Linked DNA regions of Homo sapiens: region 2 is linked to region 1. The links come from fine-mapping of genetic effects on plasma protein levels. Region 1 holds a variant in brackets. A gene starts in the other region. All regions are shown on their reverse strands.

What was found. PIP is the chance, under the fine-mapping model, that this variant and not a neighbour inherited with it causes the effect. The UK Biobank Pharma Proteomics Project read protein levels with antibody pairs (Olink). The fine-mapping took linkage between variants from a reference panel, not from the people measured, so its PIPs are less certain.
Region 2: it holds the start of AGRP, and the variant in region 1 is fine-mapped to the plasma level of the AGRP protein (UK Biobank, PIP 0.99).

Annotation. Positions count from the first base shown.
Region 1 is chr8:125,489,172-125,494,546 of GRCh38, reverse strand. The region is part of intron 2 of TRIB1AL (TRIB1 associated lncRNA); the gene reads right to left. Among named protein-coding and RNA genes, the nearest start is that of TRIB1AL, 25 kb to the right of the region's middle. The variant ATGGTGG/G (reference allele first, on the strand shown) is at 2,400.
Region 2 is chr16:67,481,223-67,486,597 of GRCh38, reverse strand. AGRP (agouti related neuropeptide) reads left to right here and starts at 3,051. Exons shown (of 4, transcript NM_001138.2): 1 at 3,051-3,081; 2 at 3,197-3,329; 3 at 3,488-3,573; 4 at 3,780-4,027. The coding sequence starts at 3,200. The coding sequence ends at 3,962. ATP6V0D1-DT (ATP6V0D1 divergent transcript) reads right to left here and starts at 5,204. Exons shown (of 4, transcript NR_184227.1): 1 at 5,079-5,204; 2 at 2,270-2,488. RefSeq lists a silencer at 5,161-5,330.

The sequences.
Region 1 (5,375 bases):
TAGTGGCAGGCACGTGTAATCCCAGCTACTTGGGAGGCTGAGGCAGGAGAGTCGCTTGAACCCAGGAGGCAGAGGCCGCAGTGAGCCAAGATTGCGCCACTGCACTCCTGCCTGGGTGACATGGCGAGACTCCATCTCAAAAAAAAAAAAAAAAAAGAGAGAGAGAGAGAAATGCAGGATTTGCGAGATTGGCTGTGAGGAACAAAAACATCATTTGACAGTTGGAGAAATGGAGGCAGTATCAAAGTGGCTGAGGAGACAGTCACAGAGGTGGCTGGCCAGAGGCCATGAGGTCTCTTGAGCTGGGACAGTCAAACTTTGCTTAACAACAGCCCATGGTCAGAAACACTTTTTTTTTTTTTTTTCTTCTTTGAGACGGAGTCTCACTCTGTCGCCTGAGCTGGAGTACAATGGTGCTATCTCAGTTCACTGCAAGCTCTGCCTCCCAGGTCCACACCATTCTTCTGCCTCAGCCTCCCGAGTAGCTGGGACTACAGGCGCCCACCACCGTGCCCGGCTAATTTTTTGTATTTTTAGTAGAGACGGGTTTCACCGTGTTAGCCAGGATGGTCTCGATCTCCTGACCTCGTGACCCACCCACCTGGGCCTCTCAAAGTACTGGGATTGCAGGCGTGAGCCACCGTGCCCGGACCAGAAACACTTCTTCTGCAGTGACCCAATATCCACACATAGAGGGTGACTTGTGTGCACACACACACGTGCATATCTACATATAAAAGAAACAAATGGAGGAGATGGATTGGAGTTGGGGTTTGGGGTGTCTGTGGCAACTTCATCTGGCCCTTAAGGGGCAGGACGACTCCCCTCAACATCAGGGTTACACATGCAAGAACACAAAGAACATGCTCAGAACACTCCCCTGGGCGCTGTGTCTGTGTCTTTGTTCCTGTGGGTCATGCAACTGTATCTGGGAGCCTAGGAGTCCTCCTGTCCATGTCTGTGTATCTGTCTCTGTTTGCCCCTGTAGACCATAGGAAAAGAAACACAAACTTCTAGTGTGAAGACGTTTTCACAGTTCTTTCTCCATATGTCTGGGACCCTCTGTGTCATGGGGCTAAGCGGAGCCTGGGCAGAATTCTGGCTTTGCTCTGGAATCAGAAAACCTTAGAACTGAAAAAGACCTTGGAAACTCCTTGGCCCAAACACCCCCTTTTAGAAATGGAGAAAATATGATGCATATTATGGAAGAGCAGAGAAGCTTTGAGGAAGGACAAAAATATCTAGAATTGTGTAGGAATGCTTTTACACCGTTGGTGGGAGTGTAAACTAGTTCAGCCATTGTGGAAGACAGTGTGGTGATTCCTCAAGGATCTAGAACTAGAAATACCATTTGACCCAGCGATCCCATTACTGGGTATATACCCAAAGGATTATAAATCATGCTACTATAAAGACACATGCACATGTATGTTTATTGAGGCACTATTCACAATAGCAAAGACTTGGAACCAACCCAAATGTCCATCAATGATAGACTGGATTAAGAAAATGTGGCACATATACACCATGGAATACTATGCAGCCATAAAAAAGGATGAGTTCATGTCCTTTGTAGGGACATGGATGAAGCTGGAAACCATCATTCTGAGCAAACTATCACAAGGACAGAAAACCAAACACCACATGTTCTCACTCATAGGTGGGAACTGAACAATGAGAACACTTGGACACAGGGTGGGGAACATTACACACCAGGGCATGTCGTGGGGTGGGGGGAGGGGGGAGGGATAGCATTAGGAGATATACCTAATGTAAATGATGAGTTAATGGGTGCAGCACACCAACATGGCACATGTATACATAAGTAACAAACCTGCACCTTGTGCACATGTACCCTAGAACTTAAAAGTATAATAATAAAAAAAAAATCTAGAATTGTGTCTTCCAACACAGCAGCCACTAGCCACCTATGGCTGCTGAGCACTTAAAATTGACTAGTCCAGATTGAGATGTACTATAAGTACAAAATATACCCCAGACTTCAAAGACTTTATATGAAAAAGTACGTAAAATTGTTCAATAATTTTTACATTGATTGCATATTGAAATGATAACAATTTTGATCTATTAGGTTAAAATATATTATTGAAATTAATTTTACTTTTTAATTATGACTACCAGAAAATGTCAAATTATGTATGCCGCTCTCATTTCTGGCCCACTTTATATTTCTATGGGACACACTGACCAAGAGTCTTGCGTCAGACATTTAACGTCTCTGAGTCTCGATTTCACCAGGTATAAAATGGGTGTCGTGATGCTTATCTCTTGGAGTTGTTGTGAGGATTAATTGAGAAACCATGTGAAAGAGCTTTTAAATCTTAAGAAGCTGTTCAGATAAAGAGGTGGATATGGTGGTGGTGATGATGGTGATGGTG[ATGGTGG/G]TGGTGGTGGTGGTGGTGGTGACGGTGGTTGTAACTCAGATCTTCGCCAAGAGGGAAGGGGTGAAAGGATAAAGGATTTAATAGTTTGACCTTCAGGAAAATACCCATAGGGGTCAGCCATATGCATGTGATCACCCACCCACCATAATTTTGGTGCTGGAGAAACAATGACCACTCCCAAACTCAGAACCATTACCCAGACCAAGCCTTTCAAAACCCCGAGTCACCATGTTCTTGCTCAGCAACCATACCACACCATCCTCCGCCTCTGCAGGTCCCTAGCCACCCCTCCAGCCTCCTCTGACACAGGAGGCTGTCTCCTCTCAGGGTAGCATGAAGCCCTTCTCCCCAGGGCACCCTTCCTTAGGAGGACAACTCCACATCTGAGTGGGATTTCCCAACAATGCTTTTTCTCTGCTCTTTGCCAGAGGCCCAGGGTCCCAGAGGGCTCCAGAAAGAGGGAGATAGCCCCAAATCTGGCCTGAGGGGACCAGCCCCTTCCTGGGACCATCACCCAGGGCAATCCCTGTTGCAACGGTGGTCTCGTAACAATCGCTTACAAACCCGGTTAGGCAAGCTGCTTTTGCGTGATGGGGCTATCTTGAGTAAACAGCATCCTCTGTCCCCTGCCGGTCACTTGCTCAAGACATTGCTGGACATTGCATTACAGCCACTGACACACGGAGTTTTGAAAATGAAAACAGGCCCTCTGGCTTATGATCAGATAGCATTTAACTCATTTATGATTGCGCCATGTTTTCCCAAGACCCAAGGGCCACAGAACGGATATTGTCACAAATGCAAACAGAAGATGCTGAGGACAGTTGGAGCCTCGGGTCACCTACAAAATGAGGCTTCCAAAGACCAACAGGCAGGTGAGGTCTGCATCACCTTGGCCTCAGTTATCCACACATGGGCATCTGGGGCTATGTAGCTTCTTAGGCTAAGCTGGGACACAGGTTCAACCCCTAGGGGGTTGAGAGAGTTAGTGTTTTCCATTTCATCCATTTTACCCCTTATTCTGGCTACCTTTCCTGCTGATACAGATCAGGAATTGAAAGGGGTGGATAAGGTCTATTTCTGGTATCTATTACTATGTAACAAACCCAAACATACTCGCTTAAAATGACTATTTCTTATTTCTCACAATTCTGCTGGTTGGCCAGACAGTTTTTCTGCTGATTTTGGCTGGTCTCACTCACATGGCTGTACTTTGCTGGGTGGTCAGTGCAAGTGACTTTGGTCAGAAAGTGAAAGATGGCCTCACTCATGACTCCAGTGCTAGCTATTGGCTGGTCACCTTGGCTCTCCTCCACATGGTCTCTCATCCTCCAGTCTGCTAAATGCTTCGCTTACATAGTGGTCTCAGGAGAGCCTTCCAAAAAGTTGAAAGCCACAGAACCTGCTGGTCAGAGCAACTCACGAGACCAGCACAGGGTCAAGAAGAAGGAAACAGGCTCTGCCTCTTGATAGAAATTGCCAAAAAATACAGTTTTCAAGCTACCGCAAGGCAAAAAAGTATAAATGCCTCCATGGAAAACTTCCCAGCATAGAAAATAATCTGGTAAAGTTATATTTTCTGAATCAACAATCCACAGTCCCAGACTAACAAAGGTCTTCCCTCCGATTCATGAATGTGTGGACAAAGGTGAACCAACAGGCTCATACCAAGTTATATATTGAATGCCGTGTTTCTCAGCCCTGGCTGAACATTAAAGTTACTTGAGGAGCGTGTCCAAATCCCACGTCCCTGCTGAATAAGAATTTTGATTGGGATGGGGAAGTGGGAGGGGATTGGGCTGGTAATCTACATTTTCAAAGGTTCTCCCAGTGATTCTGATCCACAACCAAGATTAATAACTGCAGGATTAGCAAACAAACTTTATGGGAAATAAGGTCAGGCAGGATATCTAGAAATATGGGTCATGAGCCTATCTATCTTTTACACATAGGTTCCTGTTAAATCCAATCTTAAATCCAGATCATTGTTGGAGCTATCAGACTCTAACATTGGGGTCTGGACATGAACTAGACGCACACCCTCTCTCAAATTATAGCTGCTACTCACCATGGACCAAGCCTTGTTCTGTGGACTTTCTGTGCGTGAACCCATTCAATCCCCACAGCTCCATGAGGTGGATACTGTCCCCATTTTACATATAGGGAAACTGAAGCTTAGAAAGGTTACATGATTTTTCCTAAGTTACACAGCTAATAAGATGATAGGGTTGGAACTGAAACCCACCTGGCTTCAGAGTCCATGATCTTAGCCATTAAACATGTGCCTCACTCAGAGCACACTGTCCAGGGTAAGGAAGTCGACAACCCACATCAGACTATGAGCATTCTGAGGAGGAAAAGGAAGGGGCCAGGCGGAGGGCTGTCTGTTTTCTTGGCTCATTGGCTGTTCTCAAAGCAGTGGTTCGCCACTTTGCACATTAGAATCACCTGGGGAGCTTTTTCAAACTAGGGCTGAACCATCCGCAAAGATTGTATTAACTTGCTTTGGGTGGGGTTGAGTCATGGAAGGTTTTTAAAAGCTTCCTAGGAAATTCTAGTGCACAGCCAGAGTTGAGATCATAGGCTCCACGGTTGGGCAGGAATTTATCATTCTCAGCAGGGAGGAGGATGGTGGCCCCAGTGTTGGAAGCATCTGTGAACTCTATACCCCAAGAACTTCCTAGAAATCAAACAAGCTCAAGCCAAAAGGAACCTCCTGTATCACCTGGACCAGATATCCCCAATCCTGGTTATACACTGGCAACACCTGGGTAGCTTATAAAATGCCCCACCCCAGATATTCTGATTAAGTGGTTCTGGGATGGAGTGGGGGCATCAGCATCTCTTATATCCATCCTCTCAGGTTGATTTTTTTTTTTTTTTTCAGACAGGGTCTCACTGTGTTGCCCAAGCTAGAGTACAGTGGTGCATCATGGCTCACTGCAGGCTTGGCCTCCTGGGCTCAAGCCA
Region 2 (5,375 bases), not on the chromosome of region 1:
CAACAAGCATTGTCCTGGGAATATCAGGCTGGTTCCTTACCGTAAAATTACCCACATAGTGAAACTTTTTTTTTTTTGAGATGGAGTCTCACTCTGTTACCAGGCTGGAGTGTTACCAGGCTGGAGTGCAGTGGCACGATCTCAGCTAACTGCAACCTCCGCCTCCTGGGTCCCAGTTCAAGTAAATCTCCTGCCTCAGCCTCCCAAGTATCTAGGATCATAGGTGCGTGCCACCATGCCCAGCTAATTTTTGTATTTTTAGTAGAGATGGGGCTTCACCATGTTGGCCAGGCTGGTCTTGAACTCCTGACCTCATGATCTGCCCACCTTGGCCTCCCAAAATGCTGGGATTACAGGCGTGAGCCACTGCATCCGGCTGTGAAACTTTTTTTTTTTTTTTTGAGAGAGTCTCGCTCAGTCACCCAGGCTGGAGTGCAGTGGCGCGATCTCGGCTCACCGCAAGCTCTGCCTCCTGGGTTCACACCATTCTCCTGCCTCAGCCTCCCAAGTAGCTGTGATTACAGGTGCCCGCTATGACGCCCGGCTAAATTTTTTTTTTTTTTGTATTTTTAGTAGAGATGGGGTTTTGCTGTGCTAGGCAGGATAGTCTCCATCTCCTGACCTTGTGATCTGCCCACCTCGGCCTCCCAAAGTGCTGGGATTACAGGCGTGAGCCACCGCACCTGGCCTTTTTTTTTTTTTTTTTTAATGGGGACTGGGTTTCGCCATGTTGCCCAGGCTGGCCTCGAATTCCTAGGCTCAAGTGATCTGCCTGCCTCAGCCTCCCAAAGTGCTGGGATTATAGGCGTGAGCCACCACCACCATGGCTCACTGCAGCCTCAATCTCCTGGGCCGAAGCTATCCTCCTCCCTGTCTCCTGAGTAGCTGGGACTACAGGTGTGCATCACCACATTCAGCTAATTAAATTTTTTTTTTTTGGTAGAGACAGAGTCTCACTATGTTGCCACTCCTGGGCTCAAGAAGGTGTGAATCACTACACCTGGCCGTTTTTTTTTTTTTGTTTAGTTTTGTTTTTGTTTTTTGAGACGGCAACTTGCTTTGTCGCCCAGGCTGGAGTGCAGTAGCGCGATCACAGCTCATTGCATTTTGGCGCTGGGTTTTCTTGATATCTCCCCCACTGGACCTGACCGGGGCATGGGCTGCCCTGTGAGTGCCTCAGCCCTCGTCCATCACTGCCCATGGGGCTGATACACCTGTGTGCACACACTCAGGTGAAGACAGCTGCTGCCCGTAGGTGAGGTAAGACACTGAGCACCTGTGTGGGAGGAGATCTTCCACTCCCACTCTGTCCACACCAGACCATGAAGAGCTCTCCATAGCATGGGTGCTGACCAGGCCCAGCCTGGGTGACAGAGTGAGACCCTGACTCAAAGAAAAAGACATAATGAGGTGTGATTTTAATTTCTTGGATGTCCCAGTATATATAAATGTTGGGAGTATGGATTGCTTCATTTCATTTTAAATAGCATTTTTTTTTTAAGATGGAGTCTCACTCTGTCACCCAGGTTGGAGTGCAGTGGTGCGATCTCTGCTCACTGCAGTCTCTGCCTCCCGTGTTACAAGTGATTCTCCTGCCTCAGCCTCCCGGGTAGGTGGGATTACAGGCATGTGCCACCATGCCTGAATAACTTTTGTATTTTTAGTAGAGATAGGGTTTCACCATATTGGCCAAGCTGGTTTGAACTCCTGACCTCCAGTGATCCGCCCACCTTGGCCTCCCAAAATGCTGGGATTACAGGCGTGAGCCACCGTGCCTGGCCACCCTTTATCTTCTTTTCTTTTTGAGACAGGATCTTGCTCTGTCGCTCAGCCTGGAGTGTGGTGATGCAGTCATAGCTCACTGCACTCTTGAATCCCTGTGCTCAAGCCATCCTCCCACCTCAGCCTCTACTACAGGCATGCACCACTACACCCAGCTATTTTTTTATTTTTTGTAGCAACGGGGTCTCACCATGATACCCAGGCTGGTCTTAAACCCCTGGCCTTGTGATCCTCCCACCTTGGCCTCTCAAAATGCTGGAATTACAGGTGTGAGCCACCATACCTGGCCCCCTTCATCTTTTTTCCACTGCCTTGTGCCAACCCAGTTTGTGCACTGGGGCCTTGCGATCCTCTCAAAGCTGATTCAGCCTGCATTCCTTTCCCAGATGGACACGTGTGTGATAAACAGCTCTGCAGTGGGGTGAGGGAAGGCAGGGGCAGCAGGGTCCTGTATGTCCTGCCATCTCCACAAAAGGGCAGTCCTTACCCCAGCCTTGTGCTGATGAGACCAGGCATAGACAGTCCTGACGACACAGGGCGGAAGGGAGCAGCCATTAGTGCTAATGAGGCAGGCGGCCTGAAAGCTTTGTACTCTGCAGTGGCTCGCCCACCCAGGGAACAGTTCGTTCTGTTTCCTTGGCTTCCAGGAACCCTAGGCAGAAAGGGGTTTGGGGACAGGAGCAGGAGTGGGCGGTCTTGGAGAAACCTGGAGGGAGAAAGGGAGGGGAGGACCAGAAATGTAGTCAGGAGGGCCTAGGATTGGTTAGGTGGGCTTTTCCTTCCCCTTTCCCTCCAAAGAAACCCAGGTTCTGGTTCTGCACCTACCCCTGCCCAACAGTGGCCATTGGCCCATCACCCGCTCCAATGTCCTTGACCCGAATTCTTGGAAGCACAGGAAACAACATGCCACATAGGGGTTGAGTAAGCATCTCTGGGGCCACAAATTAAATTAAGCTTTCAGGGCCGCCTGCCTTGTTATTGCTAATGGTTCTAGCCCTGCTCAGCTCCTAGGTCCCTGTCCTGTGGAAATTTGTGGACCCTGGGCACCCTCTCTTGCTCCCAAATTTTAATCGGCTCCTGGAAACCTCACCCCAAATTGGAGATAGGCACTCCTCTTGTAGAACAAAAGGCTCAGGTTCAGGGAGTGAGGGCCTGAACTGTGCCCCCACCCTCCAGGAAGGGTCCTTCACGGCCTGGCTGCAGGGATCAGTCACGTGTGGCCCTTCATTAGGCCCTGCCATATAAGCCAAGGGCACGGGGTGGCCGGGAACTCTCTAGGCAAGAATCCCGGAGGCAGAGGTGAGTCCTCAGGTTGGGCAGGGACTCCTCCTCTCTGTGGGGTCTCTATCTGGGCACCTAGAGGGGACTCCAAGGATAAGGAGGGACTAAGTGGTACATCTTCCTGCTGAGCCAGGCCATGCTGACCGCAGCGGTGCTGAGCTGTGCCCTGCTGCTGGCACTGCCTGCCACGCGAGGAGCCCAGATGGGCTTGGCCCCCATGGAGGGCATCAGAAGGCCTGACCAGGCCCTGCTCCCAGAGCTCCCAGGTCAGTGTGAGCAAGGGTGGGACTGGGCGGGGCCTGAATACCCTCTGGCCACAAATAGTCTCCCCTGGCATAAACCCTCTTTCTCCCTTCCCAAACCCTCCCCTGGGAGGTGGGTGCTTTGTGCATGGGGGTTCCTGCCCTCACATCCTCTGCCCCAGGCCTGGGCCTGCGGGCCCCACTGAAGAAGACAACTGCAGAACAGGCAGAAGAGGATCTGTTGCAGGAGGCTCAGGCCTTGGCAGAGGTAACTGCTCAGGGAAAAGGGTAAGGTGGTGGCCCTTGGGAGGGGGCATTGGGTATTAGCTCCTCTCCCCAGCTCCAAACTCCCTCACCAGCGACGACACTACCGACCACCCCTTCCCATGCTCCACTGCCATCCTGCACAGGTTGGGACAGGTAAGATCCCTGGATCTGTCTTTAGAGGCCTGTGCTGGTTCCCCACCCCTGCAGGTACTAGACCTGCAGGACCGCGAGCCCCGCTCCTCACGTCGCTGCGTAAGGCTGCATGAGTCCTGCCTGGGACAGCAGGTGCCTTGCTGTGACCCATGTGCCACGTGCTACTGCCGCTTCTTCAATGCCTTCTGCTACTGCCGCAAGCTGGGTACTGCCATGAATCCCTGCAGCCGCACCTAGCTGGCCAACGTCAGGGTCGGGGCTAGGGTAGGGGCAAGGAAACTCGAATAAAGGATGGGACCAACCCCAAGGCTGTGGTTATTTCAAACGTGGCCGTCAAAGGAGGGAGGGTTCATGGAGGGGGTGGGAGTGTCACCAAGCCAAGAAACCACACATACTCTTATCCCAGGGCCTGGGCTACCCTATCATAGGAGGCACATACACGGGCGCTTTTAGGGGTCCTGGTGCCCCTGGGAAAAATAGAGAAGAGCCGCACTCCAGCTTTCGAAAATCTTGTACAGCAAGTGCGGGGAACGCAGGACGCAGCGTGGCACAGGGGCTATCACTCCTGGCTAACAAATAAGCCTTAGGCTCCAGGGCTTGCTGCTACTTCCACGCAAAGCCTGCCCCTCATCCTGTTACCAGAGGGAAGGCCAGGAGTGTGCGTTGTTCAGGTCCTTAGCGTTTCGAACAAAGAATTGAACAAAACCCAGAAAGTAACAAACGAATGACACACAGGAAGGAAGCAGACAGCTGGGATTTGTTAAAGCGAGAAAGCACTACGCAGGGTGGGAGTGGGCCTGAGCAAGAGGCTGAAGGGGCTCAGTTACAAAGTTTTCCGGGTTTTAAGTACTCCTTTTGCGGTCCCTGTCCGTTACCCCTTATCTGGATGAAGGGTTTGGTCCATGGCTAATTAATCCATTTATGCCTGAGGTTGCAATCTTTTTGAATTTTTGCAATCAGACCTTGGCCATGACCTTGAGCAGTAGGATATAAATAACTCCCATATGCTTAGCGTTCCAATAATGGAACACAAGGCATAAATGGGGCTAAGGTGAATTGGCGCCCTATGCAGATGAAGGGATGGCCCGTGCTTGGCCCGCAGCCAATCCAAGGCACTCTCCCTTTCAACTGAGACGTGGTGGAAGGGGGAGGGTTGTGGGGACAGTGGCCTTTGATCCTTTGTTACTTGGACATGGGGAGATGGGGTTTTTCTTTTTGGTTTAGCTTTAGTAAGCTCGCCTTAGTTGGCCTCCGGTTCCCTGCCCCCAGACCTTGGTGTTTTCCCTTGATTCAGCTTCAGAATTCAGCACGTATTGGCCTCAAGTTCCCCGCCTCCAGACCCTATTCTCCTACCTCAATCGGACCTCAGTTTCCCTCTGGGGAGGAGGCTGGCCCAGCAGTCTGGAAACTTTCCAAGCTTGAGAAGGGCTCGCTCCCTTCTTTACCCCGCCCGCCCTGCAGCGTCAAGTGCAGCAAACCGGGGAAAGCTAGAGAAGGCCCAGTCAAATCCCTGCGGCCACAGGCGCCACCAAGCGGCCGGCCTCAAACTTCCTCTTTTTAGCGCGCAGGCGCCGCAGGGCCAGCCCACGCCTGCACCGCGCTTCCGCGCAGCCACCCGGAAGCCGGGCACCGCTCAGAGCCACGCCCCCT